Regions from separate parts of the Homo sapiens genome. Here region 2 is linked to region 1. Evidence: fine-mapped expression QTL. A gene starts in region 1. The other region holds a variant in brackets. All regions are shown on one strand. Distances are from middle to middle.

The links. PIP is the estimated chance that this variant, and not a neighbour inherited with it, causes the effect.
Region 2: its variant is the best candidate, but not a certain one, in a credible set for the expression of C12orf76 in anterior cingulate cortex (GTEx, PIP 0.85).

The regions. Positions count from the first base shown.
Region 1 is chr12:110,047,282-110,050,189 of GRCh38, forward strand. C12orf76 (chromosome 12 open reading frame 76) reads right to left here and starts at 1,241. Exons shown (of 2, transcript NM_001389625.1): 1 at 1,082-1,241. The coding sequence starts at 1,214. RefSeq lists a silencer at 950-1,009 and an enhancer at 1,930-2,189.
Region 2 is chr12:109,834,925-109,837,832 of GRCh38, forward strand. No RefSeq gene overlaps it. Among named protein-coding and RNA genes, the nearest start is that of TRPV4, 3.0 kb to the left of the region's middle. The variant G/T (reference allele first, on the strand shown) is at 1,716.

The DNA of each region.
Region 1 (2,908 bases):
ACTTATGTTTCAAGCCCCCAAACAGGTTCTAGTATTGGCCTCATCATTTCCTAGCTATGTAACTTTGGGCAAATAACTTCACTTCTCTGAGTTTCATTTTCCTTATCTGAAAAATAGAGCTGCAACATCAGGTGCGGTGGCTCACACTTGTAATCCCAACACTTTGGGAGGCCGAGGCAGGAGGATTGCTTGAGCCCAAGAGTTCGAGACCCCCACCTCTACAAAAAGTAAACAACAACAACAACAAAATGAGCCAGGTGTGGTGGTGCACGCCTGTAGTCCCAGCTACTCGCCCGGGATGCTGAGGTGGCAGGATCACTTAAACCCAGGAGGCCGAGGCTGCAGTGAGCCAAGATCGTGCCACAGCACTCCAGCCTGGGTGACAGAGGAGACACTATTGTAAAAGAAAAAAAAAGGGCTGCAAACCGTACGTTTCTCATTAAGTTATTGTAAGGCTCAAATGAATTCGCGTATACAAAGTGCGTAGCACAAGACATGGGATGTAGGAAATGCTCAAAAACTGTTATCATTTTTGCAATAAATACTGGCTCCTCTGGGAAAGAAGAGGGGTGGGGTAAATGATGTGCCTTGTTGCCTAGCCTGAGCCCACACTGCCAGAGAGGAGAGGACCCAGAATGAGACCCAGGTCTCCCGATTGCAGTTCATTCATGGGCAAGCAGTACATATTGAGAGCTTACTGGACACCATGCCAGGCTTGAGACCAGCCTGGCCAACATAGTGAAACCCCATCTCTACTAAAAATACAAAAATTAGCCAAGTGTGGTGGTGTGCGCCTGTAATCCCAGCTACTCGGCAGGCTGAGGCAGGAGAATTGCTTGAACCTGGGAGGCGAAGGTTCTGGCACATATTGAGCACTTGCTGAGAGGCAAAGTTCAGGCCTTCTGCCCCAGGCTTTTGGAGAGGGAGTCTCGGGGCCCCCTGAGGGGCCTCACCTGCACCCCCCGCACTCACCCATCTCCCCACTCTATCCCCTGTCCGCTCCGTACATGCCCGGCTCCAGCACCCGGAGCAGTGAAAGCTCAGGCACTACCCGCCGCCCGCCAGCCCGAGGGCCGCTCACCCAGGTTCTGCCCTCGCAGCACCGCGTACGGCCGGCTCCGCTCCAGCGGATCCACGGGGCTCGGGGCCTCTGCCTCCCCCACCAGGAGGCTGCAGAGGCCAAGGTACAGCCACGGTAACGCTGGACGCAGCATCTTCCCCAGCCCTGCAGAAGCAGAGAGGCCACTTCCGTCGCAAGCCCTGCCTCTGTCTCCTCCCAGGTCTCTCTGCGTCGCTGCCACCGCCCTTAGGGCGCGCGTCATTGCCATGGTAACTGTGCGTCCTGGTCTAAGTTCCGCTTCTGCCTAAGATTTGTTCCGGATTAACGTTCCTCAATAACTAATGTTTCCCCCGGACCAACTTTCCGTTCAGATCAACTTTCCGTCTGTGCCAACGTTCGCCGCGATTACCGTTCTGCTGTGGTTAGCGTTCCCTCATCCATTGGGGTCGAGGTCTTGTAGGTCCATTTGGGGCCTATTGAAGATTTTTTACGAATCCATGCATTTTCTTATTAAACCTTCATTACGGGCCTGGAAAATAGATACTGTGTTTCTATAGTACAAATGCCATCTTCTCAGGGAGCCCTTGCCCAGACATCCTTTTCTAAAATTGCAACCCTCCCTTTCCCTTAATGTACATTCTCCCTACCTTCGTTCTCTTCCATTCCCCCCATTCACTTTAGACTCATCACCATTTACCTTATACATTTAACGTACATTTGATGATTTTCTGAGGACCTGCTCCGCCCTAGCATGTAAAGTCCACGAGCACAGCGATTTTGTTCTTGCTCTCTGCTCTGTCCCAGAGACTGGGGGAGAGAGAGACCCTCTCATTTTGTTTTATATTGTTTTATACTCAGTACCTGTTTTAAGAAGAAACAACAAGGAAGTGAAACCAAAGACGGGCAGCCCGGCGCCAGGCCCGAAACCAGGCCTGGGCCTGCCTGGCCTAAACCCAGTTTCATGTGTGTGAAGAGACCACCAAACGTGTGTGAAGAGACCACCAAACAGGCTTTGTGTGAGCAACATGGCTGTTTATTTCACCTGGGTGCAGGCGGGCTGAGTCCGAAAAGAGAGTAAGCAAAGGGTGGTGGATTATCATTAGTTCTTACAGGTTTTGGGATAGGCGGTGAAGTTAAGAGCAATGTTTTGCGGGCAGGGGTGGATCTCACGAAGTACATTCTCAAGGGTAGGGAGAATTACAAAGAACCTTCTTAAGGTTGGGGGAGATTACAAAGTACCTTAAGGGTGGGGGAGATTACAAAGTACATTGATCAGTTAGGGTGGGGCAGAAACAAATCACAATGGTGGAATGTCATCAGTTAAGGCTATTTTTACTTCTTTTGTGGATCTTCAGTTACTTCAGGCCATCTGGATGTATACGTGCAAGTCACAGGGGATGCGATGGCTTGGCTTGGGCTCAGAGGCCTCACACCCAGTAGCTAAAAATCAACTCATAACTTAGAAACCGATGTTATTCATAGATTCCAGACATTGTATAGAAGAACGTTGTGAAACTCCCTGCCCTGTTCTGTTTCTCTCTTACCACTGGTGCATGCAGCCCCTGTCACGTACCACCTACTTGCTCAAATCAATCACGACCCTTTCATGTGAAATCTTTAGTGCTGTGAGGAGCCCTTAAAAGGGACAGAAATTGTGCATTCGGGGAGCTCGGATTTTAAGGCAGTAGCTTGCCGATGCTGCCAGCTGAATAAAGCCCTTCCTTCTACAACTCGGTGTCTGAGAGGTTTTGTCTGCGGCTCGTCCTGCTACAAGACTAGAAGAGTAGCATATTATATTCAGTAACTGTTTGCTGAATACATGAGGGAATTGAGCTAAGTGTTTGGCCC
Region 2 (2,908 bases), 210 kb before region 1:
GGGTGTGATCTCAGCTCACTGCAACCTCTGCCTCCTGAGTTCAAGCGATTCTCCTGCCTCAGCCTCCTGGGGGCTGGGATTACAGGCATGCGCCACCACGCCAGGCTAATTTTTTGTATTTTTAGTAGAGACAGGGTTTCACCATGTTGGCCAGGCTGGTCTTGAACCCCTGACCTCAGTTGATCCACCCACTTTGGCCTCCCAAAGTGCTGGGATTACAGGTGTGAGCCGCCGTGCCCGGCCCAGAGCCATGCCATTTTCATCATTAGTGTTTTCACTAAATTGAGCTGACTCAGGGACTGTGGGGTAGCTCCTTCCTCCTCAGCTTGAAAATAGCAGCATCTCTCCTGAGGTCCAACAGCTGGAAAGTGAAATTTTAGAATTGCTGGGTGGGGAGGCGAAAGAGAGAGAGAGAGAGTGTGTGTGTGTGTGTACCCCTGAATAGGAGTGATGTGTTCACCTCCAGCGTGAAACATTTACAAAGAAACAAACCCTAATAATTAACTCACTGAGCACAGAAGCCTAGGGGATGAGAGGGAGAACAGGCTGTGAGGTAGGGTTTGCTCTACCCATTTTGCAAGTGGGAAACTGAGGCTTGGAGAGGAGTATGGCCTCTCCAAAAGCTGCTCCCTCCATGGTGGGGGTTGGGGTGGGAAAGAGAACCCTCTGAGGGTCCGGAGTAAACAGGCAGATGTCTGGCAGTGGAGAGGAAGGTAAACACAGGGCCCCTCACACCTCCCTGACAGACAGCTATCTGCTGGGGGCCCTCAGGGCTGGGGCTGGGGCTGGGCCAGGTTGAGAGTGGAGGAGTGAGTCTGGGACCCATTTCTGCAGAAAGGCCTGTCTCAATTTAAAGAAAATGGCAAGGGTGATTCCAGCCATAAGGCAGCTGATGTTGGGGACTGGAACTGGGGGAGATGGGGCCAGGGATGGCGACCTCCTCTTCTCTAAGCTCAGAGGGAAGGGGCCTGAGCGCTCAGCATCATCATCACTAACCCAGCTCTTTCCTGATCCCCATTTCACAGATGGGGCAACTGAGGCCCCCATGTAGGGAAGTGACTCATCTTGGGCTAAGCAGCTGGAGCTTGGCCTCTGCACCAGACACTGGGGTTCAAATCCTGCCCTGCCGCTGATGGGAGAAGGAGCTGTGGTGGGAGCTGTGGGCAAGAGCCTCCCTCTCTCTCTGTGCCTCAGTTTCCTCACCTAAAAAATGGGTACCAGTGTCCATGAAGCAAGGGAACGTGTTCATGACCACAGGTCTAGCACCTGGCACTTAGTAGGTGCTTTAAAAATACTGGTTGATGGGTCAGGCGAAGTGGCTCATGCCTGTAATCCCAGCACTTTGGGAGGCTGAAGTGGGCAGATCAACTGAGGTCAGGAGTTCGAGACCAGCCTGGCCAACATGATGAAACCCCGTCTCCACTAAAAATACAAAAATTAGTTGGGCATGGTGGTGGGCACCTGTAATCCCAGCTACCTGGGAGGCTGAGACAGAATTGCTTGAACCTGGGAGAGGGAGGTTGCAGTGAGCAGAGATCGTGCCACTGCACTCCAGCCTGGGCAACAGAGAGCGACTCCATCTCAAAAAAAAAAAAAGTCCTGGTTGATGGAGCTGGGGGAGAGGAGAATGGGAGGTTGCTGTTTGTTGGGCGTAGGGTTTCAGTTTTGCAAGATGCAAAGAGTTCTGGAGATGAACGAGGGTCACACAACAATAT[G/T]AATATACTTTTTAAGTTTAATTTTTAATCTTTTTTTTTTTATTTTTAGAGAGAGACAGGGTATTGCTCTGTAGCCCAGGCTGTAGTGCAGTTGCCTGCTCATAGCTCACTGCAGCCTCAAATTCCTAGGTTCAAGCGATCCTCCTGCCTCAGCCTCCTGAATAGCTGGGACTATAGGTGTGTGTCACCAAGCCTGGCTTTTTAAATTTTATTTTTTGTACAGGTGAGGTCTCGCTATGCTGCCCAAGCTGGTCTCAAACTCCCGTGCTCAAGTGATCCTCATAACCTGGCCTCTCAAAACATTGGGATTACAGGCATGAGCCACTGTGCCTAGCCAGAAATAATGTTTCCTCTTAGGGAAGGAAAAACTTTCAAGGCCCTCAGCATTGGCTGTGAGTCATGTGGCAGCCACATGTGGGGCGCAGCCTTGCTCTCCACGTAGCTCCTGGACTGCCCCAGGTGGACTCAGCTACCTCCCCTAAGAAAGGTTCCTGGGCAGCAGCCAAGGGTCTGCATTTACCAAGTGCTTACTGTATGCCAGGTCCAGTGCCAGATGCTGGGGAGAGATTGGTGAGCCAGACAGGTCAGGATCTCAGGGACTTTATACCCAGGGTACCCAGTTATAAAAACAAGACACGTGCACCTCACTTTACAGTTGGCACAGTCCTGATCCTGCCACTAACTCAGTTCATCTTTTGACAGCCTGGAAAGGAGGAATTCTTCCACCATTTTATAGATAATGACACAAAGAGGCCACTTGTCTGAGATCATCCCACAACTGGTAAGATTTGAACCCAAGCCCAGCAGACTCTACAGTGTAGCATGACCAGCAGGAATATTTTCCTGGCCAGGTGCGGCGGCACACACCTGTAATCATAGCATTTGGGGAGGCTAAGGCAGGAGAATCACTTGAGCCCTGGAGGTCAAGGCTGCAGTGAGCTGTGTTCAGGCAGCTACACTCCAGCCTGAGCAACAAAGTGAGACCCTGTCTAGGAAAAAAAGAAAAAAAGAATATGATCTCAAAAAGACAGACCATAAGTGTGGATGAGGAAGTGGAGAAGCTGGAATCTTCGCACACTGCTGGTGGGAATGTGTAATGGAGTGGCTGCTATGGAAAACGGTCTGGCAGTTCCTCCAAATATTAAATCTAGAGTTACTGCCAGGCACGGTGGCTCCCGCCTGTAATCCCAACA